Linked DNA regions of Homo sapiens: all the other regions are linked to region 1. Evidence: fine-mapped expression QTL. A gene starts in region 1. Each other region holds a variant in brackets. All regions are shown on one strand. Distances are between the middles of the regions. Region 1 holds the start of P2RX4 (purinergic receptor P2X 4). Region 2 overlaps CAMKK2 (calcium/calmodulin dependent protein kinase kinase 2). Region 3 overlaps P2RX7 (purinergic receptor P2X 7).

Region 1 (10,666 bases):
TGTCTCAAAAAAAAAAAAAAAAAAAAAACCATCTACAGGCATTAGCTTATAGGGGTTAGGACAGACTGGAGGCAGAGGTCTTGGTTCATGGCTCAGCTCCACCATTCACGAGGCATAACTTTGGCCAAGGTGCTTAACCTCATTGTGCCTCAGTTTTTCCCATCTATAATCTGGGAATGATAGTAGATCTTCACAGGATTCTTGTGAGGGTAAAAGAATTAATGTAGGTCAAATGTTTACAACAATGTTTGTGAGTCATCGTTGGTCACAGAGCAAGTACTGACACCGTGGAAATTGGCCAGTACTACAAATCAGAACCCCTCCCCTTCGAACTGCTGTTAAACATCTACTAGAGACTATCAGTGTTGTTATTTATAGAATCAGGAAATGCTAGGCTTCTCCTTCTTCTAAGTCCTAGATGCTGAGACTTCAGAAATTCACTGGTTTTGTTGAGGTCAGGAGTCCAAGACCAGCCTGGCCAACATTGTGAAACCCCGACTCTACTAAAAATACACAAAATTAGCTGGGTGTGGTGGTGGGTGCCTGTAGTCCCACATACTCGGGAGGCTGAGGCAGGAGAATCACTTGAACCCGGGAGGTGGAGATTGCAGTGGGCTGAGATCATGCCACTGCACTCCAGCCTGGGCAAGAGTGAGACTCTGTCCCTCCACCAAAAAAAAGAAAAGAAATTAATGGTTTTGTTACTTATGAGTGTGTGTGATCGAGCAGTCTCCAAGTTCATTGCCCAGCCTAGAGATGGGCTTTCCCCCCATGGGCTTTTCCCCTGACAAGTCCAGGGCTTCTAGGAATTCAGCTGCAGTGTAAGCTTCCATTTAATTCCAGTCTGACACACAAAAGCTTGGGGCAGGAAGACTGATGTACTCATCAAGTACAGTGAGTTGCTTAATTTAGAGACACAGGGTTTCATGCCACTCATTATCATGTGATTATTTCCTCCTCATATGATTGTTAACAGAGTTAGATAGATGAGAATTGCGTGTTCGGTCTTTTTTTGAGGGAGGGTTGCTGTAGGAGGAGACCACAATTTCACTAAGATGAGTTGCATCAAAAAGTTAAGAGATGAGGTTAAAAAAAAAAAGAGCCTTAATGCAGGTCCTGAGTCAGTTTTGATTATAGCAAGACGGACAAAAGCAAAGCATTTACTGCTTTAAAGATTCTCATGACCGAGATAGTGAATGCGTCATAAGGAATCCTACAGAGCTGCGCTGTCCCATAAAAACATAACGCGAGCCACATATTTTTTTTTTTGAGACAGGCTCTCGCTCTGTCGCCCAGGCTGAAGTGCAGTGGCACAATCTTGGCTCACTGCAACCTCCGCCTCCCAGGCTACAGCAATCCTCCCACCTCAGCCTCCCAAGTAGCTGGGTCCACAGGTGTGCGCCACTATGCCAAGCTAATTTTTCGTATTTTTGGTAGAGATGGGGTTTCACTACGTTGCCCAGGCTGGTCTCAAAATTCCTAAGCTCAAGGGATCCACTTGCCTCAGCCTCCCAAAGTATTGGGATTACAGGCGTGAGCTACCACAGGGCAAGACCCTGTAATTTAAAAGTTTCTAGTAGCCATGTCAAAAAGTAAAAAGAAATAGAAAGGGCTGGGCACGGTGGCTCATGCCTGTAATCCCAGCACTTTGGGAGGCCGAGGCAGACAGATTGCTAGAGCTCAGGAGTTCGAGACCAGCCTGGGCAACATGGAAACCTCATGATTGTAGAGATGAGATTTCTCATCTGTACAAACAAACAAACAAAAACACAATAATTAGCCAGTCATGGTGGTGTGCACCTGTAGTCCCATAATTCCAGAGGCTGAGATGGTAGAATCACTTGAGCCTGGGAGGCAGAGGTTGCAGTGCATTGCACTCCAGTCTGGGTGACAAAGCAAGGCGCCGTTTAAAAAGAAAAAAAGAAAAAAGAGACAGGAAAAATTAATTGTAATGATATATTCTGTGTAACCCAATATATCCAAAATATTTTAACATGTCATCAATAAAAAATGTTTTCATGTGATAGTGGTACTCTTTGTTTTTTTGAGACAGTGTCTTGCTCTGTTGCCCAGGCTGGAGGGTGGTGTGATCACAGCTCTCTGTGGCCTCAACCTCCCAGGTTCAAGCAGTCCTTCTGCCTCAACCTCCCAAATAGGTAGGCCTATAGGCGTGTGCCACCATGCCAGGCTAATTTTTGTATTTTTTTGTAGAGGCAAGGTCTCGCTATGTTGCCCAGGTTTGTCTCAAACTCTTGAGCTCAAGCGATCTTCCCACCTCAGCCTCCCAAAGTACTGTGATTTCAGGCATGAGCCACTGTGCCCAGCCTCTTTTTCTGTACTATGTCTTTGAAATCCAGTGTGTATTTTAAGGTTATAGCACATCTCAGTGTAGAGTAGGAACGGTTAAGTGTTCAACAGGTGCAAGTTACTAGTGGCTACCATACAGTGCAACACCACTATGGATATTTTCCGCAGTTGTAATTTTACAGGTACCCTAAGGTAGATGTGCACTGATCCTCCCACTAGCAGCAAACGCCAAAAGCAAAAAGCTGCAGGGGAGCTCCTGCCCCCAAATGCTTCAGGTCCAACCAGGGATGTGAGTTCAGTTAACTGGCTAGCAGTGAGTCTCCAAAAAAAAAAAAAAAATATATATATATATATATATATATATATATATATTTGAGATGGAGTTTTGCTCTTGTTGCCCAGGCTGGAGTGCAGTGGCGCAATCTGGGCTCACTGCAACCTCCGCCTCCTGGATTCAAACGATTCTCCTGCCTCAGCCTCCCATGTAGCCGGGATTACAGGCATTAGCCACTAGGCCTGGCTAATTTTTTGTACTTTTAGTAGAGACGGGGTTTTACCATGTTGGCCAGGCTGGTCTCGAACTCCTGACCTCAGGTGATCCACCCGCCTCGGCCTCCCAAAGTGCTGAGATTATAGGCATGAGCCACCGTGTTCAGAAAAAAAAAAAAAAAAAATTCTTTTTTTTGCACTGCTCCATCAGTACAATTTACCATTTTAAACTTTATTTTTCTCTTAGAGATGGGGTCTCGCTATGTTGTCCAGGCTGGTCTTGTGTCCAGGCTGGTCTTGAGCTCCTGGCCTCAAGCAATCCTCCCACCTTGGCTTCCCAAAGCACTGGGACTACAGGTGTGAGCCAATGAGTCCAAATCTGGGTGTGGGCCAGGTGGTTCTGATGTTGAGTCTGCACCTGGAAAGCCATCCTCTTGAATACTGTCTGTATCTACTGCTGCTGCTGACAGATATTGGAAGCCAAACCTGCTTGGGCTTCCCTTGGGCAGTGTTAAGATTCCAAACCTCACCCCAAAGACGGGGGGATCTGTTACTTTTAAACAATTCCTCAGATGAGTCTTCCATGATCAGGTAAACTTGGGAAACACAGTTCATTGGTTCCGAAACGTTGCTGAACATGAGAATCACCTGGGCAGCCGATCATACTCTGCAGCAATTAAATCAGAAGGTCTGGGGATGCGTCTGGGCGCGGTGGCTCACGCCTGTAATCCCAGCACTCTGGGAGGCTGCGGCGGGTGGATCACCTGAGGCCAGGAGTTCGAGACCAGCCTGGCCAACATGGCGAAACCCTGTCCCTACTAAAAATACAAAAATTAGCCGGGCATGGTGGTGGGTGCCTGTAATCCCAGCTACTCAGGAGGCTGAGGCAGGAGAATCGCTTGAACCAGGGAGGTGGAGGTTGCAGCGAGCCAAGATTGCACCACTGCACTCCAGCCTGGGCGACAGAGGGAGACTCCATCAAAAAAATAAAAAAGGGTCTGGGGATGGGAGCCAAAGATTTCCAGATGGTTCCAATGTGCAGTTTGGAGACCACTGCACTAGGCAATACGTGTCAGCCCAGCAGCTGTAGACACCAGAACACCCCAGGTAAGCCTTTAAAGTGGCCCCAGGTGGCAAGGTAATTATCATCTTCTCTCTCGCGTTGTATTCAATTGTAACAGGTGCCAGCCCCGCGTGGGGGCTCACGCCTGTAATCCCAGCATTTTGGGAGGCTGAGGTGGGCGGATCACCTGAGGTCAGTTCAGGACCAGCCTGAAACCCCGTCTCTACTAAAAAATACAAAAATTGGCCGGGCGTGGTGGCGGGCACTTGTAATCCCAGCCACTCAGGAGACTGAGACAGGAGAATTGCTTGAACCCGGGAGGCAGAGGTTGCAGTGAGCCGAGATCGTGCCATTGCACTCCAGCCCGGGCGACAAGAGAGAAATTCCGTCTCAAAAAAATAAAAAAATTAAAAAAGTAACAGGTGCCTTCAAGTACAATGGCACATTCAGCGAGGCCTGAGGGCGGTAGGGCATCTCTAGCCTAAGGGGGCAGCATGGGGAATGACTGACTAGGCTAGGGCAGGTACCACAAAAAGCCCCACAAGCCCAGAAAACAAAGGAAGCAAACTTTAAACACTCGCTACAGTCTGACCTCGCTACTACCACATAGTGACACCGCATAGTGATCAAAAGAAATGACCAAAAGCCACCCACCCAGAAGGAACCAAGCGGAAATTCCAAGCTTTGGTTTTGTCAGCAAATCAGCAGGATGGGAAGTGGAGAGCGAAGATTGAGACGTTCAGGGCGAAGCCCCTACAGCCAAGGGGCACTATGGGGGGTCAGGCAGGAGAGGGTAACAGCCTAGCCAGGCTTTGCCTTTATTTATTTTGTAAACAGACGGGTCTCGGACTGTCTCCCAGGCTCGAGTTAAGTGGTGTGATCATAGCTCACTGCAGCCTCAGCCTCTTGGGCTCAAGCGATCCTCCCACCTCAGCCTCCTGAGTAGCTGGGACCCCAGGCGCGCGCCACCAGGCCCGGATGATTTTTAATTTTTTGCAGAGACGGGGTCCCACGATGTTGCCCAAATTGGTTTCGAACTCCTGGGCTCAGGCGATGGTCCCGCCTCGGGCTCCCAAAGTGCTCGGATTACAGGCTTGCGCCACCGCGCCTGGCCCAGGCTGTGGTTTTAAAACAGCAGCAAGCAGCCTCCCGCCCCCGGGGCCCCGGCGCGGCGGCTGGGGCCCAGGGAAGGTGTCACCGCCTCGGCTCGCCGCTCCCGGACTCGCCCAGGTGACCGAGGCCAGGATGAGCCGCCGCACGGCGCGGACGCGAGGGCAGCACCCGCCGCGCCCCCCGCGCGGCCCCACGCTCACCCGATGACGTAGGCCAGGATGAGCAGTTGCACGGCGCGGTTCATGAGCCCCACTTTGCGGCTGCGGATGAGCACGATGCGCGGCGTGTCGTACTCGAACAGGAAGGCCGCCAGCGCGGCGCAGCAGCCCGCCATGGCCGCGCCGCCCGCTCCCAGTCCCCTAGTCGGTCTGGGTCCCAGTCCCCGCTCGGAGCCCCGCCCAGTCCGCCTGGCCTGCTGGCGGCGCCGTCATCGCGGAGGAGGGCCCGGAAGGAGGCAGCACGGGCGGTCGGGGCCCGGGGCCCGGGGGAGGGCGCCACCTCCCCGTCGGGAACGATGACCCTCTAGGGGGCATGGAACTCGCGGGGGGGGAGTGGCCTCGCCCTTGAGGACGAAAGGCTCCTTCAAAAGGCGGGCGAGGGGCCGGGGGCGGTGGCTCACACCTGTCATCCCAGCACTTGCGGAGGCCGAGGTGAGAGGAATCTTGAGTTAGAGACCAGCCTGGACAACATAGCGAGACCTCGTCTCTATCAAAAATACAAAAAAAAAAAAAAAAAAAAAAAAAAAGCGGGCGTAGTGGCGCTCGCCTGTAGTCCCAGGGAGGCTGAGGTGAGAGGATCGCTTGAGCCCAGGAGGTAGAGGCTGCCGTGTGAGCTGTGATCGCGCCACTGCACTCCAGTCTGGGAGATGAAGCGAGACCCTGCCTCAATAAACCAGAAACCAAAAAACAACAAAAAAGGCGAGTTGGGGAGTAATGACCTTCTCAGGAGGGCCAGAGAGAACAAGAGACCCTTTCGGGGAAGATGGGGTCCGCGAAGAGAGAGTGACCTCCCATTTGGGACAGAGTTCAAGTGAGGGGTAACGAGCGACCTCCCTTAGGGGTACTGATAGGTGCCAGGGATTTCCGTAGAGGACCCCGGGGCTGTGCGGAGTAGCCATCGCTCACGAGTGCGGGCTCCTAAACTTGGGCAGCTGTGGTTGGGGGAGCTGGGGCCGCGCTGTCCTTAGCCTCTTGGGGAACAGCCTAAATATCAGGTGTCCTGTGAGCCCTGGGTGAGAGCCACACGCCCTGTAAAATACCCCTCCTGGATTTGAAGCCTGGTCGCATTCTCACTCCAAATACTTCCTTAGTTGCAGCCCAGGGGAGATAATTCTGTGGTCATCCTTTCCACTGAGAAAATGCTATCACAACTTTAGGAGAGAAAATAGTGAAAGGGGGGGAAACAGCCACCGTTCTACCCCATGAATACAATTTTCCGCATGTGTATTTGTTCATTCCCTTCAGATACGTTTTTTCTTTTTCTTTTTCTTTTTTTTTTTGAGACGGAGTTTCACTCTTGTCCAGTCTGGAGTGCAGTGGCGCGATCTCGGCTCACTGTAACCTCCGCCTCCCAGGTTCAAGCAATTCTCCTGCCTCAGCCTCTTGAGTAGCTGGGATTACAAGTGCCCGCCACCACGCCCAGCTAATTTTTGTATTTTTATTAGAGACAGGTTTTCACCATGTTGGCCAGGCTGATCTCCAGCTCCTGACCTCCCATGATCCACCCGCCTCGGGCTCCCAAAGTGTTGGGATTACAGGCGTGAGCCACTGCGCCTGGCCCAGATGTGTTTTCACAGGTGAATGTTATATTTAGTTTCCCAGAAAATATTCATAAGCACATCCTTTATGCCAAGTACTGTCCAGTGAACAGGACAAGCAAAATATCCTGCCTTCATGCAGCATAAATTCCAACAGGTAATTGGTATAAAGTTTTGGTTTGTAATCATAGTCAATGGCTGTGCTTTTCATTTTCTGATTCGCACTACGTGGTTTCTGTGTTACTGCAGACTCATCATAATGACAATTTTTAATCCATGGACCATTTCTTCCGGAAAATATACCACGATGTCTCTAACCGCTCTCATCTGCTTGCTTCTTAGTTTGTGGATCCTATGCATAATCTTTGATACAACATTTTTAGCTCATTTCCTGGATATGAGATTCCTAAGTAAGCCACACCAACTTGTTTTTCCAAATATAGAAAGGTGAATAATAAAATTTGCAGAAAACAGGCAGCATCTGCCTCTAAGAGATGGAATTCTTAAGTTAGAGGGAGGAACAGAGATGCCCATGCCAGCCTTGGTCCAAAATGGTCTCAGGAAAAGGTGGTGGTATTTTATTCATTCATTTGACAGAAATTTACTGAGTGCCTGTTGTGTGCTTGGCACTTTTCTTGATGCTAGGGCTATGGAGTGGACAGGTGAGGTATCTGCCCAAATGGAGTTTGGTGCAATTGGGAAGCCTCAAATTATCTGTAGAAGAAGAAAACTCCATTGCTAAATCCTCATTGGAAGGGGACTTAAAAATCATTTCCTTAAGAATCAAAACATGGCTGGGCACGGTGGCTCACACCTATAACTGCAGCACTTTGGGAGGCCGAGGCAGGCGGATGATCATGTGAGGTCAGGAGCTGGAGACCAGCCTGGCCAACATGGTGAAACCTCATCTCTACTGAAAATATAAAAAACTTAGCTGGGCCTTATGGCAGGTGCCTGTAATCCCAGCTACTCGGGAGGCTGAGGCAGGAAGAATTGCTTGAACCTGGGAGGCGGAGGTTGCAGTGAGCTGAAATTGTGCCACTGCACTCCAGCCTGGGTGACAGACTCCATCTCAAAACAAACAAACAAACCCCAAAAAACACCAGGCACGTGGCTTACACCTTTAATCCCAGCACTTTGGCAGGCCAAGGTGGGTGGATCACCTGACATTGGGAGTTCGAGACCAGCCTGACCAACAATGGAGAAACCCCGTCTCTACTAAAAATACAAAAATTAGCTGGGCGTGGTGGCGCATGCCTGTAATCTCAGCTACTCAGGAGGCTGAGGCAGGAGAATTGCTTGAACCGGGGAGGTGGAGGTTGCCATGAGCTGATCACGCCATTGCACTCCAGCCTGGGCGACAAGAGTGAAACTCCATCTCAGAAAAAATAAAAATAAAAAATAATGGCAGCAATCAAAACACATTTCCAGCCTTCATTCATACTTACCCTATAGTAATGAGTTAGTCCCAACCTCACAAATCTTGAATTTAGATGGTTTGCTTGTGTTTTGGAATGGGGTCAGTTAAGAAAAATGTAGAAATGCAAGTTTTTATAAATTACTAGTTGGTAACATCATTAGGCCTGACCAAAGAAGCTGATCCTAAAAAATGATTTGGAAAAGTTATTTTGTTTACACTGTTGCTCTTGGATTATCTCTTTTTAAAAAATAACTTTATTGACCAGACATGGTGGCCCATTCCTGTAATCCCAGCACTTTGAGAGACTAAGTTGGGAGGATTGCTAGAGCCCAGGAGTTTGAGACCAGCCTGGACAACATAGGGAGACCCCCATCTCTATAAATACTTTAAAAATTAGCCAGCCATGCTGGTGCATGCCTGTGGTCCCAGCTACTTGGGAGGCTGAGGCAGGAGGATCACTTGAGTTTAGGAGGTCAAGGTTGTAGTGAGCTGCAATTGTGCCACTGCACTCCAGCCTGGGTGACAGAGTGAGACCCTGTCTCAAAAATAAATAAGAAGGCGGGATGCGGTGGCTCACACCTGTAATCCCAGCACTTTGGGGGGCCGAGGTGGGTGGCTCACTTGAGCTCAGGAGTTCCAGACCAGCCTGGGCAACATGGTGAAACCCCATCTCTACAAAAAGTACAAAAATTAGCTGGGCATGGTAGCACGCACCTGTAGTTGTAGTCCCAGCTACATAAAATTTTTAAAAAAATAAATTGGCCAGGTGTGGCTCACACCTGTAATCCCAGCACTTTGAGAGGTTGAGGTAGGTGGATCACTTGAGGTCGGGAGTTTGAGACCAGCCTGACCAACATGGTGAAGCCCCATCTCTACTAAAAATACAAAAGTTAGCCGGGTGTGGTAGTGCATGCCTGTAATCCCAGCTACTTGGGAGGTTGAGGTAGGAGAATTGCTTGAGCCCAGCAGGCGGAGGCTGCAGTGAGCTGATATTGTGCCACTGCCCTCCAGCCTGGGTGACACAGTGAGACTCTGTCTTAAAAAAAATAATATAATAAAAATAATAAGGAAAGAGAGAAAATTAAAAATGGATCAAAGACATACATATAAGAGCTAAAATTATAAATCTCTCTGATGAAAACATAGGGGCAAATCTTTGTGACCTCGGATTAGACAGTGGTTTTTTAGATTTAGATTTTGTTGCCTAAAGCAAGGCAACAAAAGAAAAAAATAGATAAATTGGACTACTTTGTCAAAACTGAAAAGTTCGTGCTTCAAAGTTACCATCAAGAAAGGGAAAAACCCACAGAATGATAAAATATTCACATATCCTATATCTGTTAAGGATCTAGTATTTCAGATATCGTAAGAACTCTTAAAACTCACCAATAACATGACAACCCTATTTAAAAATGGGCAAACATATCTGAATAGACATTTCTCCAAAGAAGATATACACATGAGATCAATAAACACAAGAAGATGCTCGATATCATTATCGTTAGGGAAATACAAATCAAAGCCACAGTGAGATACCATTTCCTCCCCACTAGCATGGTTATAATTAAAAAGATGGACAATCAAAAAGCTGGCAAGGATGTGGAGAAACTGGAACCCTCACACATTACTCATGGGAATGTAAAATGGTCCAGCTGCTTTTTACTCGTGGGAATGTAAAATGGGCCAGCTGCTTTGGAAAACAGCAGTTCCTCAAAATGTTAAACATAGAAATTACCGTAGGACCAAGATATTCCTTTTCTAGGATTTCCCCAGAGAATTAAAAAGATATGTTCTGGGCGGGGCTCCGTGGTTCACGCCTGTCATCCCAGCACTTTGGGAGGCCGAGGCAGGTGGATCACTTGAGGCCAGGAGTTCGAAACCAGGCTGGGCAACATGGAGAAACCCCATCTCTACTCAAAATACAAAAATTAGCCAGGCATGGTGGTGCATGCCTGTAATCCCTGTAATCAGCTACTCAGGAGGCTGAGGCAAGAGAATCACTTGAACCTGGGAGGTTGCAGTGAGCCGAGATCGCACCATTGCACTCCAGCCTGGGTGACAGAGCGAGACTCCGTATCAAGAAAAAAAAAAAAGAAAAGAAAAGCTATGTTTGGCATCTGACCTTGTCTCTTTAACCTTCCCATGCCCACTTGGGCCTCTTCCAAGCACAGCTTCCTTTCCCATCCTAAGGCATTTCAAATAAACTTCCACCCCTCCTCTGAAAAAGAAAAATGTTCATGCAAAAACTTGTACATGAGTATTCATAGCAGCATTCATAATGGCCAAAAAGTGGAAACAATCTAAATGTCCATCAACTAATGAACACATAAACACAATGTGGTCCATCCATACAATGGAACATGATTCAGCCACAGGAAGGAAGCACTGACACGCGCCACACCACGGATGACCCTTGAAAACACCACGCTGAGTGAGAGGAGCCAGATGCCACAGGGCACTTATCGTATGATTCTGTGTATAGGAAATGTCTGGAATAGGCAAATCCATAGAAACTGAA
Region 2 (10,666 bases), 43 kb before region 1:
CTAGACTTTGTCTCAAAAAAAAAAAAAAAAAAAAGTAGAAAACTCGATCTCTATTTCTAGAGGTTAAAAAATTCCCACCCACTGCTCAGCCCCAAAAGTGGTTGAACTGTTAGCGACTGAAAATAGACCTGTTTCAACAGGCCACCCTCCCTCATGCCACCTGATTTATGGTGCTTGGGTGGGTGGGAGGATGGTGCAGAAATTCATGAAGCTTGCAAGTGAAGACTTAAATAACCAAGGCAGGAAAGGCCAGAGCTGAGGGGGCCAGCGCTGGGTTGTCTGTAGAAGCTGTACCTTAGCAGCATTGCCTTTGTTTTTAACTACAGCCTGAAGCAATAGCAAATCTGCCCTAACTCACACTGGTTGATGAAACTGAAGATGGGGAAGGCCTGGGAGAGTTCAGTTCTTTTCCTGATCAGAACCTTTAAGCCTTCTTTTTGTCTGAGTAGCTTCCCTGTTCCCCTTGGCCACCTCAGCCCTTGGAGAGCTTTGAAACAACCCTTTGGTTTCATTTTTAAAAAATTTTTTTGCCTGTAACCCCAGCACTTTGGGAGGCCGAGGTGGGTGGATCACCTGATGTCAGAAGTTCGAGACCAGCCTGACCAATACGGTGAAACCCCATCTTTACTAAAAATACAAAAAATTAGCCGGGTGTGGTGGCAGGTGCCTGTAGTCCCAGCTACTCGGGAGGCTGAGGCAGAAGAATCGCTTGAACCCAGGAGGCAGAGGTTGCAGTGAGCCAAGATCGTGCCACTGCACTCCAGCCTGGGCAACAGAGCAAGACTCCATTTCAAAAAAAAAAAAAAAGTTTTTTTAATTTTTGTGGGTACATGGTAGGTGGATATAGTCATAGGTTACATGAGATGTTTTAATACCGGCATGCAGTGCATAATAATCCCATCATGGAAAATGGGGTATCCCCTCTGGTTTCTATTACATGCTCATCTCATTGTGGGTGTATGATTCCAGAACAACAAGCAACCCCAGAGTCATCCTCCACTGGATTTTGAAATCGACTGTGCTCTTTTTTTTTTTAACTTCCTAAAGTACAGCCTTGTATTCCAATTTATGCTTGTCATAGCAGAATCAAATTAAATAACTATACCACGTGACCCAGAAATTCCACTCCTAGGTATATACCCAAAAGAACCAAAAACAGATATCCACACATGAACATATCCATGTACACGAACGTTCATTGCAGCACTTCCCAACAGCCAAAGAGTAGAAACAGTCCATATGCCCCTCAACAGATGAATGGACAAAGAAAATGTGGTCTATCCATACAATGGAATATTATTCAGCCATTAAAGGGAATGAAGCACTGATCCATGCACCAGTGTGGATGAACCTTAAAAACGTGCTAATGATGCTAAGTGAAAGAAGCCAGACACAAAAGGCCACATAGTGTACAATTCCATTTATATGAAATGTCCAGAACAGGCAAATCTATAGAGACAGGAAACAGATTGGTGGTGGCCAGGGGATTGAGGGAGGGAAGAATAGGGAGTGACTGCTAATGGGTATGAGGTTTTCTTTTGAGGTGATGAGAATGTTCTGGAACTAGATAGTTGTGATGATTGCCCAAAATTGTGAATATACTAAATGCCACTCAATTGCACGCTTTAAAATGGGTAATTTTATGTTACGTAAATTTCATCTCAAAGAAATTTTTTTTTTGGGACATTCTTGCTCTGTTGCCCAGGCTAGAGTGCAGGGGTGCAATCTTGGCTCACTGCAACCTCCGCTGTCCAGGTTCAAGTGATTCTTGTGCCTCAGCCTCCCAAGTAGCTGGGATTACAGGCACCTGCCACCACGCCCGGCTGATTTTTGTATTTTTAGTAGAGATAGGGTTTTGCCACGTTGGCCAGGCTGGTCTCGAGCTCTTGACCTCAGGTGATTCGCCCACCTCGGCCTCCCAGAGTGTTGGGATTACACTGGCGTGAGCCACCGTGCCCAGCCCCCTGCCGTGTTTTCTTTGACCAGTGGATCCTGGGCCAATTTGAGCACTAGAAGTCAAGCCAGACTGTGGGCCTGGGGACGTCAGAAATCCCTGGTTCTTTGCCTTCTGATGGAAATTTAGCAAAGCAGGACCTTGGCCAGCTTGGTTCAGTGGACTGTTCCTCTCCCCAGCTCTAATACTAGTTTCTGTCTTTCTTGGTGTTTCTGGAGGTGGTTGGGAGGTGGGGAGGACAGAGAGAGATGGATGTTCAGTTTCCCATGTAACAGTTTCACCCTTTTCTTCCCTACAGTGTTCGAACTGGTCAACCAAGGGTGAGTGTCCCAGCTCCCAGCAGGGGTGATGCAAGAAGCTTCTGTAGCTGCATAGCTGAGTGAGGTGCCACTGGGCTCTGCTCATGAGAGAGGGCAAGGGCTGGCGGGTCTGCTTTGTGTTTCACATGAGTGTCGACCTTTCAGGCCCGTGATGGAAGTGCCCACCCTCAAACCACTCTCTGAAGACCAGGCCCGTTTCTACTTCCAGGATCTGATCAAAGGCATCGAGTACTGTGAGCAGGGCCTGCGGGAGGGCTCTCACCCAGTGGGTAGTTAGCATTCTGAGCGTGGGTGCAAAGTGGAAAGTGTCTTATTTTCTTCCTGGAGCACAGGGAGGTGGGCGGGTGGATTGGGGTCCTCTAGAGGGACAGAACTAATAGGAGATACATATATATATATAAAATTATATATATAAAATTATATATATAATTATATATATAAAATTATATATAATTATATATATATAAAATTATATATAAAATTATATATATAATTATATATATAATTATATATATATAAAATTATATATATAATTATATATATATAAAATTATATATATATAAAATTATATATATAATTATATATATAAAGGGGAGTTTATTAAGTATTAACTTACACGATCACAAGGTCCCACAATATAGTCTGTCTGCAAGCTTGAGGAGCAAGGAGAGCCCATCTAACTCTCAAAACTAAAGAACGTGGAGTCTGACGTTTGAGGGCAGGAAGCATCCAGATAGGAAAAAAACATAGGCTGGGAGGCTAGGCCAGTCTCACCTTTCACGTTTTTCTGCCTGCTTTATATTCGCTGGCAGCTGATTAGATTGTGGGTCTGCCTTCCCCAGCCCACTGACTCAAATGTTAATCTCCTTTGGCAACACCCACACAGACACATCCAGGATTAATACTTTGTATCCTTCAGTCCAATCAAGTTGACACTCAGTATCAACCATCATAGTGGGAAACAGAATTGTGTGAAATGCAGAATCAGGGCCAGCTGCAGAGAGCCACCCTATGGCCATGGTCCAGGCGAGCCAAAACCCTTCTTCCTGCCACTTGGCAAAATGAAGAGCAGTAGCAATAGTGACTATTTAGCACTTTCTATGTGCACCAGGCACTGTTTGGGGCTCTATTTTTTTTGTCTCTTATTCCTCCCAGTGACCCTGGGATCAGGGTCCTGTTCACCTCCTGGAACCTTAGCTTCCTCATCTGTAAAATGGGGATAACATATCTCTCACCAGGGCTGAGATCAGCCAGTACACATCAGTGGTTTGATTGGCAGGTGTCCTTTCTGCTTCTGCTTGTTAAACATCTTAGCTCTTTTTTTCCTTTGAGATTCTTGCCCTGTTGCCTGGGCTGGAGTGCAGTGGCGCGATCTCAGGTCACTGCAACCTCTGCCTCCTGGGTTCAAGCAATTCTCATGCCTCAGCCTCCCAAGTAGCTGGGACTACAGGTGTACGCCACCATGCCCGGCTAATTTTTGTATTTTTTGTAGAGATGGGGTTTCGCTATGTTGGCCAGGCTGGTCTTGAACTCCTGACCTCAGGTGATCCCCCTGCCTTGCCTCCCAAAGTGCTGGGATGACAGGCGTGAGCCACCGTGCCCGGCCACCACGTTATCTCTTATCCCTGCCTGTCACATAGGATGGTTGTGAGGTTTAATTAAATGTAAAATGTGAATGTGAAACACAACGCAGGGCCGGGCCCCTCACTTGGTGCTCTGCTGCTGCTTTCACTGAAATCGTCTTCATCATCATCATCACCCCAGAAATGGCAGTTGGGTCTTCCAGGCCATAGAACTGTCCTGTACCATGGGCTGATATCCAGCCAGGAGGAGTTAGCCAAGCCCCGAGTTCTGTGTGTGGTTCACATTTCAAATCGGCCTGCTCAGGTCATTGTCGGTTTGGTAAATCAGTTGAGTATTGGCTGTTGGTAAATGAAACTATGTTTCACTGTCAGTTTCACAACTAGCTGTGAGCCAAGCCCAGCAAAAACTTTCCATGCACTGTCACTTGTGACTTAATAAATAACAGGCGATTACGAATTGCTATTGGCAGTGTTTTATGTGTCATTGTTGAGAAGGGGTGGGGTGATGGTGGGCTGGGACTTCCTTGAAGACACTTTTCCCCTCATCTTTTAGAGCATGTCAGTGCCCAGCGGGTTTGGGGAGTGGAAGGTTGGAAAAGGCCTGGGGCTGTGGGAGACAAGGCATCAGAGGGGTGCCATGCCTGTGTCTCCAGGCCATGTGGCCGCATAGAGGTGCTCACGAGGTTTTCCTGCCCCTATCTCCCACCTGCTGTCTACGCCTCCCCAGTACACTACCAGAAGATCATCCACCGTGACATCAAACCTTCCAACCTCCTGGTCGGAGAAGATGGGCACATCAAGATCGCTGACTTTGGTGTGAGCAATGAATTCAAGGGCAGTGACGCGCTCCTCTCCAACACCGTGGGCACGCCCGCCTTCATGGCACCCGAGTCGCTCTCTGAGACCCGCAAGATCTTCTCTGGGAAGGTAAGCTTGGGCCTGCCTCAGCCACAGAGTTCTGCCTGTGTTAGTGTCTTCTGGATTGTAAGCAGCAGAAACCCAACGCACACAGGCTTAAACAGTGAATCCCCTGGATCAAGATACTGAGGGGTAGGCTTCAGGCTTGGCTAGATCCAGGGACTCAAACAGAAACCATCTCCCGCCATCTTTCAGTTGTTTTTCTTATTTGGTTTCCTCCACAGGTGGGTCAGGCACCCAGGGACCAGGTTACTTTCTATCATTTGCCAACCTCAGTGGCAAGAGCATTCCTCATTCTGAATAGTGCCTGTGAAAACCCTGGGGTTGGCTCTGATTGGCCCAACATGGGTCATGTGCCCATGCTTGAACCAATCACTGTGGCTGGGGGTAGTGGTGCTCTCATTGGCCTGGCCTGGATCCTGTGCCTGCCCCAGAGCCTAGGAGACAAGATTGGTCCCGCCCCAACTCCAAGGGCTGAAAGTCAAGAGGTGGTTCCCCAAAGGAAAACTGGAGGATTGGAGGCTGGACCACCCCTTATGCCCTCACACTAAGCTCTTTTTCTTGCAGGCCTTGGATGTTTGGGCCATGGGTGTGACACTATACTGCTTTGTCTTTGGCCAGGTAAGAGGGCGGGGTGTCTGTCCCCTCAGTACTGCTGGGTGGCCCCTGGGTTAATAGTCACCCTTGCGGGGAGACAGTACTTACTTATTTAAGAGTTATTTTAGGCTGGGCATGGTGGCTCACGCCTGTAAACCCAGCACTTTGGGAGGCTGAGGCAGAGGTTAGGAGTTGGAGACCAGCTTGGCCAACATGGTGAAACCCCGTCTTTACTAAAAATACAAAAAATTAGCCAGGCGTGATGGCGCATGCCTATAGTCCCAGCTACTCTGGAGGCTGAAGCAGGAGAATCGCCTGAACCCAGGAGGCGGAGCTTGCAGTGAGCTGAGATTGCACCATTGTATTCCAGCCTGGGCAACAAGAGCGAGACTCCGTCTCAAAAAATAAAATAAGAGAAGAGTTATTTTATTTCTACACCTAGATCTCAATGTGAAAAAGGATGCCTTCCTAAATATACATGTGTATGTATGTCATGATCATATCTATGAAAAAATGATCTGTTAAAACAGAAGGATTGGCAGAGGCTCTAGAGTTTATAAATAGTTGATAAATT[TA/A]GGGCAAGGACAGCAGTTCTGCCACCTCTCCCATTTCTGAGCCCAAGGCAGACATCACTAATCAATAACTGTGCTCGTTCCTCCTGAGCCTGATACTGCTCTGATGTTCTTTCCGTCAGGGTATTCCTAGAAGCTTTTGTCAGAGGGGTAGCATTGGAATGGAAGTTAAAAGCTGTTTACCATTATTGATTTAGGGAGTGCTGTTTGGGCTTTTCTGTTGTTGTTATTTTGTTATTATTGATATCTGGGGGCTTCTCTCTCTATTTTTTTTTTTTTTTTTTTTGAGATGGAGTCTTGCTCTGTCACCCAGGCTGGAGTGTAGTGGTGCGATCTCGGCTCACTGCAACCTCCGCCTCCCGGGTTCAAGCCATTCTCCTGCCTCAGCCTCCTGAGTAGCTGGGACTACAGATGCCAGCCACCACACCCGGCTAATTTTTGTATTTTTGTAGAGATAGTGTTTTGCCATGTTGGCCAGACTGGTTTCAAACTCCTGACCTCAAATGATCTGCCAGCCTGGGCCTCCCAGAGTGCTGGGATTTGGGATTACAGGTGTGAGCCACCACGCCTGGCCTTCTCGTTTTAACTCTGAAGTTCAGTTTGATTATGTGAGCAATAAAAACGTAGATTTTTCCCTTTCCTGAGCTTGTGTTCTTATTGAGGAAAGCCTAAGAAACTGGTCCCATGAAGAAGTAAAGGAGTTTATACCGATTGCCTCTCAATATTTGATTAGAAAATTTTTCAATCATGTAGCAAAGCTGGAAGAAGTGTCCAGTGAACACCCACATACCCACCACCTGGATTCTACTATATTAACCTTTTCCTGTGCTTGTCTGTTCATTCCTTACCCATCCCTCAGTCCATCTGGTTTCTTAATGTATTTCAGAGTAAGTTACCACCATCTCCACTCTTCCTTCCAAATGCCTTAGAAGGCAGTGATTAGGTAGAGCTCAAGTCACTGCTCTTAATGAAATCGTTTTCCTTAGACGGGTGGTTCAGGTACCTCTCTGCCACCTTCTCCAACATTTTCAGTGTCCCGTGTAAGGATTCCTTTTCCAGCACACATGACCAAGCTGCTCTTGAGTCAGGCCCTCAGCTGGGTGAAAGCATCGATTTGTCACCCAGAAGGTGGTGCAAAAATAGGCTTCAGAGTCAGCTGAATCTAGGCTTAAATCCCTCTTCGTACTTCCTGGGACACATTATTTCTCTGAACTTCTGTTTTTCTCTTCTGTAAAATGAGAATACTACTTATTATTTCTGATGACTTCTGAGAGGATTGACAGAAATAATTCAAGTATCCATTAATTCAGCAGATATTTATTGAGCCCTTACTTTGTGCAGGAACGCTCCTAGGCACGGAGAGTCCGCAGTGAGCAAGACAGCCAGAAATCCCTGCCTTCTTGGAGCTAACGTTCCCGTGGGAGGGGTTAAACAATAAACAAATCTGTACGATAACGTCAGGGATAAGTGCTACGATGAGGAGTGATGTGGGCGGTGGCGGCATTGGGGGTTGTCTGTTTTAGACAGGGCTTCAGGAAGTCCTCCCTGAGAAGGTGAGCTTTAGTCAGACACCTGCATGGTGGGAGAGACCAAGCCACGTAGATGTTGGTGAGAAGAACATTCCAGGGACGGGGAACAGTGAATGAAAACCTCAGGGCAGGGCGTGGCGCGATCCAGGCTAAGCCCTTGAAAATCACTGCTGCTGCCACAAATAACACAAAGTCTTTTGTGTTATTCTTGTTGTTCCTGTTGTTCACCTGGCAAGTAGGTGACGAGCAGTGTTTGCTTTGGTGTAAGTAGGTAAACTGAGGCCCAGCTACAGAGGGAGCCTGCAGTGTGCTTGGGAAAGGCTCTAGCCCTTCGAGAGGGCCATTCCTGGCTCTGCCCTGCGTCGGCCAGGCCCCACACCCCTGTGTCTTGGCCATTCTCGGGGAGAATGGGAACTGCTTGCCCCCTAGCCTGGGCCGCAATTGTTGATTTCTCTGCTGTATCCTATGTGGAGTGGCACAGCACAGGTGGCCCTCGAAGGGCAGATGTGGCCGCCATTGACTGCCACTCTGTCCCTGGCCTCTTTGCAGTGCCCATTCATGGACGAGCGGATCATGTGTTTACACAGTAAGATCAAGAGTCAGGCCCTGGAATTTCCAGACCAGTGAGTATCTCCCGCCGTCCCGCATCTCTCCTGTCCGAGTTCTTGGCGGTCCCGTGTCTGCCACCCTGACGCCTCTCCATCCCCAGGCCCGACATAGCTGAGGACTTGAAGGACCTGATCACCCGTATGCTGGACAAGAACCCCGAGTCGAGGATCGTGGTGCCGGAAATCAAGGTACCCTTGGCTCAGCCTGTGCCCCGTGCTCGGAATTGTTTGGCTCAGCCATGCCTCAGCCAGACCCCACACCCTTGTGTCCACAGCACCACACCCTCCTTGGCACCGCTGTTCTCCTATGCCCCAGGGCCTCTGAGCTGCTGGGGGCTGTTGAGGGCTGGGTAGGAAGATTTGGGCATTGTGTGCACTGTGACTGTGGGAGTGGGATCTATGACCCGCCAGCCTGCACTTGCTCTGATTGGCGTGGGCTGATGGGATCCACCCTCTGCAGACCGGCATGGGGCCTCCGTGCTCCACACCCTATTCCCAGAGCTCAGGTCCTTTCCAAAGGCCCGTCCCTTTGAGAAACTGCAGTGAGGATGGGAGGAAATTAATGAGCAATTCGACCTCCCCAGCCTGCTGAATCCCACCCTCTTGCAGAAAGCACTTTTAGGAAAGTGTATTCCCCTACACATCTCCACTAATGCCACACACATATATCTGGCCCTCTAGGAAATCTAGAGATTTGCCCTGGGACTTCCTAGGCAGCTAGCTAACTGGCATTTGAAGGTCTTAACAGAAGGCAGCCCAAAAAATCATGGATTGGGGCTTGGACCCAAGGGGGCAGACCCCTGCCTGGGTCCTCTCCTGATCCTGTCCTGCCAGCTGGTCCCACCATGCCTCCAAGCCTCTCCTGCTGTGAGATGGGGAGAATGCTGCCTGCTGTGCACTGAGCCTCCCAGGTGTCAGGGATTGTGGCTGAGGAGTGATGGATGCTCCTTGGGCAGCCAGGCAAGGCAGATGCCAAATTCCCATCACTTCGGCCAAGACCCGGGGCCGGATGGAGAATCGCCCCACTTCCATTTCAGCCTTGTAGCTCCTCCCGTCCTGTCTCTCCGTCTTCATGTTTCCGCCCCTTTGCTCACCCCTGCCCTCTGCTCGCCAGCTGTTTTGCATGCCTGACCACAGGCCCTTGCCTCTCCGTCCTGCATGCCCTTGTGGCTCCGCTCGCTGGCAGGGCCCCCCGGTAGCCAGCCACACCTGCCCCTCACCCCTCCTGTCGTTCGTTGAAGCTGCACCCCTGGGTCACGAGGCATGGGGCGGAGCCGTTGCCGTCGGAGGATGAGAACTGCACGCTGGTCGAAGTGACTGAAGAGGAGGTCGAGAACTCAGTCAAACACATTCCCAGCTTGGCAACCGTGGTAAGGTGGATGGACCCCTGACCCAGAGCAGGGACCCAGGAGCCTGAGGTGGGGCCTGGCCAGGACAGGCCGGACACAGGCGGGTGCCCGGGAGTCAGATGTCCGGGGGCCACCCCTAATCCACAGCTGCTGGCCTCTGGGCCTTGGTCATGTATCAGGCCAGGTGACCCCTGCATCTTCTGAGCCAGGTTCCATGTTACCATAGGAAGGGGAAGATTATCCTTCTGGAATTCCTGCTTTCAGAGCTCATCAGGGGAGAGGAACTAGGAGAAGTTCCAGGCAGGGGCAAGGGTTGGGAGCCGGAGCCCAGGTCTCTAAGCCAGGATTCCCGCCTAGCTGGAATTTTAGGCTCCAGGGTGGATGGCGTAGCATATCTCACGTCTGCTGTGTGGGCAGCCACCAGGGGTAGGGGCAGGGACTTCCACGCACACACTCAGAAAGTTCTGCCCATCTCCTGAGAGTGAGAATTGCTTAGGAGCAAGTAGGTCCCCTTTTATGGCCTTGAATTTGGATCCTGACCCAGGAAGAAGGAGCCAGAATGTAGAGTCCTCAGGCCTAACCTTGGAGGCTCTGGGAATCGCCACTGACCAAGTCCCTGTCCAGGAGGGCAGTTAGCTCCAAGAGAGAGACCAAGAGTCCCAGGGATCCAGGTTCCAGGCAGCAGGCTTGGGGACAGAGACCAGCAGGTTGTCCCACCACAGCCACCTCGAAAGGCCTGGTTGCAGTTGGCCAGCACTAGTCCCAGTGGGCCGGCGGGCCCCTGGGCTCTGGGAGGGACCCTTGAGACTGGCTGGAAAGGCACAGAAGGTCCAGCTGTGAAGGATTGCCCCTGTAGGAGCCCAGATGCTGCTCCTGCTCCTCCAGCTTTGCACCTCTCTTCTCTGCTTCCCCACACACTTCCTCTCTCCTCCTCCCAAAGCTGAGCCCTGGCTGGGGCATCCATCCACATCTTCCTCCACTCTTTCCCCACCTGGGGCTGTGCAGGACCTTCACTGTTGAAGACCCACCCACACCCACTCACCCTTCCTCAACCACCCCTTGTGCCTGTAGACGAGGAGACAGCTGGCGTCGGACTCTGCACCCACCGTGGGTTACTGTGTTCCAGGCTCAGGAGGTTCTCAGTCCTGAATCAGTTGCCCTCCCTTTCCTTCCTGGGTCTCTGGGACGGGTTCTTGGGAGAAAGCGTCTGGCCCTGGAGGTCTGGAGTAGGCATTC
Region 3 (10,666 bases), 63 kb after region 1:
ACAAAGAACAAAAATTAGCTGTGTGTGGTGGCACATGCCTGTAGTCCCAGCTACTCTGGAGGCCACAGTGGGAGGATTGCTTGGGCCCGGGAGGTCAAGGCTATAGTAAGCTGTGATTGCACCCCTGTACTCCAGCCTGGGCAACAGAGTGAGACCCTGTCTCAAAAAAATAATAATAAAATAATTTTTTAAAATGAGATGCTTTGCAGCAGTGAAAATGAATTGACTAGGCCTGACATAGTGTCTCACACCTGTAATCTCAGCATTTTGGGAGGCCAAGGTGGGTGGATCACTTGAGATTAGGAGTTCAGGACCAGCATGACCAACATGGTGAAACCCTCTCTCTACTAAAAATACAAAAAATTAGCCGGGTGTGGTGGTGTGCGCCTGTAATCCCAACTACTCGGGAGGGTGAGGCAGGAGAATCCTTTGAACCGGGGAGGTGGAGGTTGCAGGGGGCCAAGGTCACATTACTGCACTCCAGCCTGGGCGAGTAATATTGATGAACCTTGAAAACAATATAATTTATGGCTGGAGTTCAAGCGATTCTCCTGCCTCAGCCTCCCAAGTAGGTGGGTAGCTCGTGCCACCACACCCAGCTAAGTCAAAGAGACCAGTCACAAAAGGCCACATATTGTATGATTCCATTTATATGAAATATCCAGAATAGGTGAATCCACAGAGACAGAGAGTAGATTGGTCGTTGCAGGGGACAGAGTGGGAAGAAATGGGGAGTGACTCCTGGGGGGCATGGAGTGTCCTTTTGGGGTGATGAAAATGTTCTGGAGCTAGATAGAGGTGGTGGTTGCACAGTACTATGAATGTCCTAAATGCCACTGAATTGTTCATGTTTACAGTGGTTAATTTTACGTTATGTGAATTTCACCCCAATAAAAAATTATATTTTTTATATATGTAGACATATATGTGCTGTAGAAATATTAAAACAAACAAGGGAATTAAAAATGTCAAATTCAGGATTTCTTTTAGGCTGGGCATGGTGGCTCATGCCTGTAATCTTTGGGAGGCCGAGGCAGGTGGATCATCTGAGGTCCTGGGTTCGAAACCAACCTGGCCAAACCCCGTCTCTACTAAAAATACAAAAATTAGCCAGTTGTGGTGGCATGTGCCTGTAGTCCCAGCTACTCCGGAGGCTGAGGCAGGAACCCTGGAGACGGAGGTTGCAGTGAGCCGAGATGGCGCCACTGCACTCCAGCCTGGGTGATAGAGTGAGACTCTGTCTCAAAAAGAAAAAAAAAAAAAAGGATTTCATTTAGAGATGGAGTCTTGCTATGTTGCCCATGCTGGAACACAGTGGCTATTTCACAGGTGCAATCAGCACACGACAGCCACAAACTCCTGGGCTCAAGTGATCCTCCCATCTCAGCCTCCCAAGTAGCTCAGGCTGCAGGTGCAGCCACTGTGCCTGGCTGCAGGATGTTTATAAAGCAAAAGGAAAGAGAATGGGATGAAGGATGAGTTTGCAGGGAGCAAAACTGGATTAGTAATGCTTTATTTCTTAAGTTGGATGGTGGTACGTGGGTGTTATATTATGCACAATACACTTTAGTATTTCTATAACATTTATTTATTACTTATTTGAGACGGAGTCTCACTCTGTTGCCAAGGCTGGAGTGCAATGGCGCGATCTCAGCTTACTGCAACCTCCGCCTCCCAGGTTCAAGTGATTCTCCTGCCTCAGCCTCCCAAGTAGCTGGGATTACAGGCATCCACCATCGTGCCCAGCTAATTTTTGTATTTTTAGTAAAGATGGGGTTTCTCCATGTTGGTCAGGCTGGTCTTGAACTCCTGACCTCAGGTGATCCACCCGCCTTGGCCTCCCAAAGTGTTGGGATTACAGGCATAAGCCAGTGCACACGGCCAACATTTATTTAAAAAGAAGGATTTTCAAGAAAGATGTTGGGGTAAGATACCCAGATTTGAGACCCAATCAGCACATACGAGACATAGCTATTAAATAGAATTCCATAGACAAATATGATAACACTTGCTCATTAATACATTTCAGCCCAGCATCCCAACACATACATGGTGCATGCAGCGCTTTCTCATGCTGGATGTTGCAACGTTCTCCTGGAACAACACTGGGTCATGTGACCCACCATTTGGGAAGCTCAATTCTGATCTCTCATATTTATCCCAGAATGTGCAACATATGATCGATCAGCCTTAATGGAATCAGGCCCTCTCCTAAACAGAAAACCTGTCTCTGTGTCATCATGAACATGTAAATTTTAAGAATTAAAATGCTTCAGAGCTGCGTCAAAGACAAAAAGGGAATGAAAGCGAGTTTGCACACTTTACCTGTCGGGGGGGATACTGTGATCATGAAAGTGAGTTTGTAGTATCCTCCCTTTGGAAAGAAAGTGCTAATGACCATCCCAGAAATACTCTCCCGACCTTGCTTGGTGACTAAGGTGAGCCATGTCACCCCTCCAGGTGGTAGGTTTAATCCCTGAATGAAGAGAGAACTCCCAGCCTTCCCCATCCCCATGACCTTTTTGCTCTAAGAGGCTATAATGTTATGCATTCTGTAGAAGGCAAAGCCGCTGGTACCTGGAGCTAACGGGAGTGTGAAGGACCTAGGGATTTCACTGAGCCGGGGAGGATGGGTAAGTTGTGGGGGTGTGGTGGTGTGCACCTATATTCGCAGCTACTTGTTAGACCGAGGTAGGAGGATCCCTTGAGCCCAGGAGTTCAAGACAAGCCTGGGCAACACAGTGAGACTCCAGTCTCTAAAAAAGAACAAAGCTGGAAAGATTTTGGGAAGTAGAACAGAGCTAATGGGAGAGAAGCCAGGGCCACTGATATGGTTTGGCTGTGTCCCCATCCAAATTTCATCTTGAATTATAGCTCCCATAATTTCCATGTGTTGTGGGAGGGACCTGGTGGGAGATAATTGAATCATGGGGGCAGTTTCCCCCATACTGTTCTCGTGATAGTGAGTAAGTCTCATGGGATCTGATGGTTTTATAAGAGGTTTCTTCTTTTGCTTGGTTGTCATTCACTTTTTGCCTGCCACCATGTAAGACATGCCTTTCGCCCTCTGCCATGATTGTGAGGCCTTCCCAGCCATGTGGAACTGTGGGCCCATTAAACCTCTTTCCTTTATAAATTACCTGGTCTTGGGTATGTCTTTATTAGCAGCGTGAGAACAGACTAATACAGCCATCAAGGGGCACTCACAGGCAAGTCTGGCTGAGGAGGAGCCCTGGAGTGGCAGGGAAATAAGGATGGAGGGTGAGGTTGGGCCCATGGGACCCTGAGGCTGCTTGCTCTGGACCCACCAGATGGAGATGAAGGTGCCCACCATAAAGTCGTTCTTCAGAGTCTCAATCCACATGCTCTGAATATGAGTGACTGTCACAGACTTACACTGGCATCACAGGTGGGATGGGCCCCATGCCAGCATGGTTAGATTGCTCTTCAAGCTCTGCAGGGAGGACCTCCCTTTCAGCAAAGTTCCTCTCCGTCTTACAGCCCCTGGGCTTCCAGCGCAAAGGTAACATCAAAGGGCTGAGCCTCCAAAGTGTATCCCTTGTATCTCTTAGCTCACACCTAAGCCAGGCCAACAAACATCTTCATGGACCCCTAAAGAACAGTAGCGCCAGGACTGTGCCTGCAGTGCGGCACAGAGAAGCTTGGCGTGCAGCCTCTGCATCTCTTATTTAAAATCCCAAGAGGAGAATCCGATCAGGTCCATCGCTGGTCCACCCGGCCATGGTGGGGGCTCAGCAAGGGGCGAGGACCCAAGAGATGCTCTGAGAAGAAAGTGGGGGAGAGCCAGCACCCCCAGGGCAAGTTTAATCCCGATTGTATTAGTTTCTGGTTGTTGCTCTAACAAATTACCACAAACTTAGTGGCTTTCAACAACACTAATTTATTCTTTTGCAGTTTTGGGGGTCAGACTCCTAAAGTCAGTCAAACAGGGTAAAAATCAAGGGTTAAAAAGAAAAAATATAAATTAAGATCACAGCTGGGTGCGGTGACTCACGCCTGTAATTCCAGCACTTTGGGAGGCTGAGGCAGGTGGATAATTTGAGATCAAGAGTTTGAGACCAGCCTGGGCAACATGGCGAAACCCCATTTCTACTAAAAAGGCAAAAATTAGCTAGGTGCGGTGATGGGTGCCTATAATTCCAGCTACTTGGGAGGCTGAGGTGGGAGAATCGTTTGAACCTGGGAGGCGGAGGTTGCAGTGAGCCAAGATCATGCCATTGCACTCCAGCCTGGGTGACAGAGTGAGACTCTGTCTCAAAATAAATAAATAAATAAATAAATAAATAAATAAATAAATAAAAAAGATCCCAGCCCAAGTCATTCCCATAGGCAATGGGAGTGTCTTCTAGATATCTCTTTATGTCCACACCTAGACACACAAATAGATATACTGATGTTACAAACGTGGCTGCAAGCTGTTTTGTAACTTGTTATTTTTGTTCAATAATATGTTATTAGTTCTTTCTATGACAGTAAAGATAGATCTGTGATAAAGATAGATCTATGATACACAGTCATTTTCAGTGGCTAAAGAGTATCTTAGTGTTTAAATTGAACATATGAAACGGCCCATTTTGGCTGGGCTCGGTGGCTCACTCATGTAATCCCAGAACTCTGGGAGGCCGAGGCAGGCAGATTAATTGAGGCCAGGAGTTCAAGACCCGCCTGGCCAACATGGTGGAAACCCCATCTCTACTAAAAATACAAAAATTAGCTGGGCGTGGTGGTGCACACCTGTAATCCCAGCTACTTGGGAGGCTGAGGCAGGAGAATCGCTTGAACCTGGGAGGCAGAGGTTGCAGTGAGCCAAGATCGTGCCACTGCACTTCAGCCTGGTGACAGACTGAGACTGTCTCAAGACAAACAAACAAACAAACAAACAACAACAAAAAAAACTGCCCATTTTGCATTTTGTAGGCCATAGCTATAGAATATAGGCAGTTCCATATGGTTCAAGCTAAAAGGTACATTGTGATAATTTGTCAACCAGCCTCTGGGATGGATATTTACTGGAACCTTTGTTCAATTTTCCCAATTATAAACATTTTTTGGTAACCCTAATATAGTCCTTACCATGTGCCAACCACTCTTCTAAGTCCATTTTGCTAACATATATTAACTCTTGCAATCCTTACTCTCCCCCACCAAAAACAAAAACAAAAACAAAAAACCAACTCTATAAGGAAGGTACTATTATTACCCCCACTTAATAGCTGAATAAACGGTGTCATGAATGAAGTGAGAAGCTTGTCCAAGGTCACATGGTAAATAGCAGCACCAGCTCCAAACACAGCCATGTAGCTTCACAGCCTCAGCTTTCTTAAATGCTACAGTGAATGGAATACTTTTTCGAATTTCCTTTTCAAATGTTCATTGCTGGTGTAAAAAAAACCCACACAATTAATTTTTGTGGTTGATCTTGTTCCTTGCAACTTGACTGAATTAGTTTATTTGCTCTAACAGTTTTCTTGTGAATTCTTTGGGATTCTCCCTATATGGGATTGTGCCACCTGTGACTAAAGATAGTTTTACTTCATCCTTTACAATCTGGATGCCTTTTATTGCTTTTTCTTGCCTAATTGCTCTGGCTAGAACTTCCAGTACAATGTCGAACAGCAGCGGTGAAAGCGGGCATCCTTGTCCTGTTCCTGATCTCAGGGAGATGCACTCAGGCTGTGCTCCTCAACACTGTGCTCACTGTCTGTCCATCCCGCATTCATGTTGCCAGGAATCCCTGCACAAGCTTCTTCTCACCCCTAAGACATTAAGTCCATAGGACAACTTCTGGGTGTGCACATTTTATAGCTGAGTTCATTTTCCCAAATCACAAAAACTTGAACCATTTCATGCTTCTATCAGCAAAGCAAGAGTGTGCACACTGCCTCTTCAGAGGGGCTTGGCCCGGCTCAGTGGCTCACGCTGTAATCCCAGCACTTTGGGAAGCTGAGGCAGGGGGATCACTGGAGGTCAGGAGTTCAAGACCAGCCTGGCCAACATGGTGAAACCCCGTCTCTACTAAAAATACAAAAATTAACCAGGCATGGCGATGTATGCCTGTAATCCCAGCATTCAGGAGGCTGAGGCAGGAGAATCACTTGAAACCAGGAGGCAGAGGTTGCAGTGAGCTGAGA[T/C]TGTGCCATGCCCTCCAGCCTGGGACAGAGTAAGACTCCTCAAAAAAAAAAAAAAAAAAAAAAAAAAAAAGAGAGGCTTGACAAATAAGAGGATGGTCATGTGAACTTGGCTGGGACAGTAGAGGGTCGGGTCACCAGGCTGGGAGCACAGGGCCCGTAGGATGGGGGCTGTGAGTTTGAAGAAGAGGACAGACATAGTAGCAGCGTGCAGCCATTTGAAGAGTAGAAGAGGGACACAAGGCAGAACTCTAACCAAAGGCGAAAGTTACAGGGAGATAGATTGTGGCTCAGTATAAGGAAGAAATGTCTAACAGGGCAGTCCCAGAGCAGAACGAGCTTTCCTTGTGGTTGCTGCTGGTGATGGTGAGGAAGATGATGATGATAATTTTCATTTATCCCATCAACTTCCGTTTCTCTCCTGTCCCATTTCCATCTGCATTTAAACATCATTTCTCATCTTAAAAATGCCTCCCCTCCCCAGCTTAATCCATCCTACCACCACTCCATGCCTCTCTTCTTTATAGCTGAGTCCCTTGAAAGAGTGAGTCACCAGGCCGGGTACGGTGGCTCACGCCTGTAATCCCAGCACTTTGGGAGGCTGAGGCAGGTGGATCAAGAGGTCAGGAGTTTGAGACCAGCCTGGCCAACATGGTGAAACCCCGTCTCTACTAAAAATACAAAAAATTAGGCGGGTGTGGTGGCACATGCCTGTAATCCCAGCTACTTGGAAGGCTGAGGCAGGAGAATCACTTGAACCCAGGAGGCAGAGGTTGTGGTGAGTGGAGATCACACCATCGCACTCCAGCCTGGGCGACAGAGGAAGACTGCATCTCAAAAAAAAAAAAAAGAAAGAAAGAAGAAAGAAAGGGCGAGTCATCACATCCACTTCCGCATCTTGATTCACTCACTCCTCTACCCACTCTAGTCTGGCTCCCACCCCCATCCCTTCTCTAAAGCCTCTCTTGCCAAGTAAACAACAATGTCGTTGTCACTAAATCCAATAGATACACCATGGACCTGACCTTCCTGGAACTCTCAGCAGCAGTTGACACTGACTGTGACCATGCCCCACTTCCCTCGCCTCCTTCCCTTAGCTTGCAGGAGTCCACTTGTGCCTGACTTTCACTGGATCGCCGTGGCTACTCCTCAGAATCTTTTGGGGACTTCTGCGCTCCCACGCCTTAAAGGTTAGCACTCCTTTGGGGCGTGTTCTAGGCCCTTTTGCTTTCTCATCTACATCTTCTCTTGCTGGTCGGTTGCACCTTCTTCCAGGGTTCTGGTTGCCGTCTATATGCTGGTGATATAGAAACCTACATCTCAGCTGCAGATTCGTATATCCAACCATCCATTCAACATCTCCATTTGTACATTCCATAGACACCTCAAACTCAATGCCTTTAGTCCTGACCTCATCTTCCACCCCAAATTGGCTGTTTCTCCTGCATTTCCTATCCCAGCAAGTTATTCCAGTACCCATCAGTTGCCCAAGCCAGAAGCATGGTGCACTCTTTGACTCATCCTCTCCTTCTTGTCCACTCACCCGTTCAGTTGCCAAATCCTACTGTTTCACTTCCTAATATGCTCAAATTCATCTACTTCTCTCCTCTGCCTCTATCACCTCCCCAGTCCAGGTCGCCAACAGCTCTCAGATCTGGACATCCCAATAGTCTCCTAAATGCCCTCCCTTCCTCCAGTCTCACCCTGTCCCCTCTACTCTCTACACTGCAATACTTTAGTGAGAGCATAGACTTTGGAGTGAGGTTCAGTCTCAGCTCTATTGCTTACTGACTACATGACCTTGGGTAAGTGACTTAATCTTTCTGAGTCATTGTTTCTTCTTTTGTAATAAGAGGATATTAGGGCTGGGTGCAGTGGCTCATGCCTGTAATCCCAGAACTTTGGGAGGCCAAGGCGGGTGGCCCATTTGAAGTCAGGAGTTCAAGACCAGCTTGGCCAACATGGTGAGACCCCATCTCTACTAAAAGTACAAAAATTAGCCAGGTGTGTTGGTGCACGTCTGTAATCCCAGCTACTCAGGAAGCTGAGGTAGGAGAATCGCTTGAATCCGGAAGGTAGAGGTCGAAGTGAGGCGAGATCATACCACTGCACTCCAGCCTGGGCGACAGAGCGAGACTCTAACTCCCTTGCAAAACAAGAGGATATTAGTATTCTATTGGGCAGGGTTTCTAGTTCTAAACAACAGAACTCACTCTGCTGAGTTTAAGAAGAAAGATTGTCCAGAAAAGACAAATCTCCAGAGGCAGAGAATAGATTCATGGTTACCTGGGTTGAGCAACCACCAGGAGGAAGTGGGAGTGGGGAGTGACTGTTAATGGGTGTGAGGGCTCTTACTGGGCTGATGAAATGTTCTGAAACTGGATTGTGATGATGGTTGCACAACTTGGGAAATTTACTAAAAGTCATTGAAATGTATATTTAAAACCGGTGATTTTCTGATATGTAAGTTATACCTCAAAAAAGTTGTAAAAAGAGACTTTCTTTTTTTTGAGACGGAGTCTCACTCTGCCACCAGGCTGGAGTGCAATGCCATGACCTCGGCTCACTGCAACCTCTGCCTCCTGAGTTCAAGCGATTCTCCTGCCTCAGCCTCCCGAGTAGCTGGGATTATATAGGTGCCTGCCACCATGCCCAGCTAATTTTTGTATTTTTAGTAGAGACGGGGTTTCACCCTGTTGGTCAGGCTGGTCTCGAACTCCTGACCTCAGGTGATCCACCCACCTCAGTCTCCCAGAGTTCTGGGATTACAGACGTGAGCCACCGCGCCTGGCCGATTTTTTTTTTTTCAGATAGGGTCTCACTCTGTCGCCCAGGCTGGAGTGCAGTGGCACAAACACAGCTCACTGCAGCCTCAACCTCCCAGGATCAAGCAATCCTCCCACCTCAGCCTTCCCAGTAGCTGGGACTACAGGCACGCAGCACCATGCCTGGTTAATTTGTTTTTCTGAGATGGAGTTTCGCTCTGTCGTCCAGGCTGGAGTGCAGCAGAGTGATCTCAGCTCACTGCACCCTCTGCCTCCCAGGTTTAAGTGATTCTCCTGCCTCGGCCTGCCAAGTAGCTGGGATTACAGGCACCTGCCACCACATCTGGGTAATTTTTGTATTTTTTTTTTTTTTTAGTAGAGAGAGACTTTCACCATGTTGGCCAGGCTGGTCTCGAATGAACTCCTGAACCCAGGTGATCTGCCCACCTGGGCCTCCCAAATGCTGGGATTACAGATGTGAGCCACCGTGCCCAGTCATCTTTTTTTTTTTTTTGAGATGAAGTCTCACTCTGTCCCCCAGGCTGGAAGTGCAGTGGCATAATCTTGGCTCACTGCAGTCTCTGCCTCCCAGGTTCTAGAGATTCTTTTGCCTCAGTCTCCTGAGTAGCTGGGACTACAGGTGCGCGCCCAGCTAACTTTTGTATTTTTAGTAGAGACAGGGTTTCACCATGCTGGCCAGGCTGGTCTTGAACTCCTGACCTCAAGTGATCCACCTGTCTCAGCCTCCCAAAGTGCTGAGATTACAGGCATGAGCCACTGCACCTGGCCAAAGTTAACGATTTTGAGATGGCGAGATGACCCTGTGTCATCCAGGTGGGCCCTGAGTGCTATTACACGCGTCCTTATAAGAGAGGCAGAAGGAGATTTGACACACACACAAAGAGGAGAAGACCATGTGAAAACAGGGCAGAGAAGTCTGAAGATGCTGGCCTTGGCTGGGCACAGCAGTTCCCGCCTGTAATCCCAGCACTTTGGGAGGCCAACGCAGGAGGATCACTTGAGCCCAGGTGTTCAAGACCCACCTGGGCAAGACGGTGAGACTCCATGATATGATAGAGTTGACCTGACCCAATCACATGAGCCCCTTAAAAGAAGAGAGTATTCTTCTTCTGGTCCCGGGAGAGAAGTCAGAGATTTGAAGCATGAGAACAATGCGTTGTGTCATAGCAGGCTTGGAGATGGAGAGGACCATGTGGCAGGGAATGTGGGAGGACTTCAGAATCTGAGAGTGGCCCCAGGCTGACAGCCAGTGAGGAGCAGAGCCCAGTCCTGCAGCCTCAAGGGATTGAATTTTGCCAACAACAAAAATGAGTTTGGAAGTGAATTTTCCCCAGAGTCTCCAGGCAGGAACTCAGCCTGCTGACGCCTTGATTTAGGCCTGTGGGACTGTATTAGTTTCCACTGCTGTGTAACAAATAGAAACTAATACAGCCTCAGACACCCCTCATTCCATAGGGCAGCTCACAGTCTGCAGAGGGACAGAGTGGGGCCCTCTAAGCCATGGGGTCCAAGGAAGGGGATCCCCTATTGTATGGGTCAAAGGGCAGTACTTCCCTCCATTCCTGAATTTGAATTCTGTGCACACCCAGCATCCAGTGTTATTCCTTGTGTATCAAAGTGTTGCCTGGGGCATATGTTTGGAAAGCTTGGGTCTCCTGTTGTGTCCTAGCTGCAAGGGAAACTGGGACATTCAGCTGTGACATGGATTGTGTGGTGGAACGCATAACACAG

The links. PIP is the estimated chance that this variant, and not a neighbour inherited with it, causes the effect.
Region 2: its variant is the best candidate, but not a certain one, in a credible set for the expression of P2RX4 in fibroblasts (GTEx, PIP 0.63).
Region 3: its variant is the best candidate, but not a certain one, in a credible set for the expression of P2RX4 in whole blood (INTERVAL, PIP 0.76).

Annotation. Positions count from the first base shown.
Region 1 is chr12:121,204,805-121,215,470 of GRCh38, reverse strand. P2RX4 (purinergic receptor P2X 4) reads right to left here and starts at 5,342. Exons shown (of 12, transcript NM_002560.3): 1 at 5,173-5,342. The coding sequence starts at 5,306. LOC105370032 (a long non-coding RNA gene) reads left to right here and starts at 5,399. Exons shown (of 4, transcript XR_001749352.3): 1 at 5,399-5,622. RefSeq lists an enhancer at 4,517-4,566 and a silencer at 4,897-5,636.
Region 2 is chr12:121,247,391-121,258,056 of GRCh38, reverse strand. It overlaps CAMKK2 (calcium/calmodulin dependent protein kinase kinase 2), which reads left to right. Exons shown (of 17, transcript NM_001270485.2): 8 at 2,253-2,274; 9 at 2,419-2,507; 10 at 4,585-4,784; 11 at 5,343-5,396; 12 at 8,023-8,096; 13 at 8,183-8,270; 14 at 9,323-9,451. Among named protein-coding and RNA genes, the nearest start is that of P2RX4, 43 kb to the right of the region's middle. RefSeq lists enhancers at 1,964-2,464, 9,037-9,116. The variant TA/A (reference allele first, on the strand shown) is at 5,947.
Region 3 is chr12:121,141,844-121,152,509 of GRCh38, reverse strand. All of the region lies in intron 1 of P2RX7 (purinergic receptor P2X 7), which reads right to left. The region is part of intron 2 of LOC105370032 (a long non-coding RNA gene); the gene reads left to right. Among named protein-coding and RNA genes, the nearest start is that of P2RX7, 14 kb to the right of the region's middle. RefSeq lists an enhancer at 8,514-8,663. The variant T/C (reference allele first, on the strand shown) is at 6,153.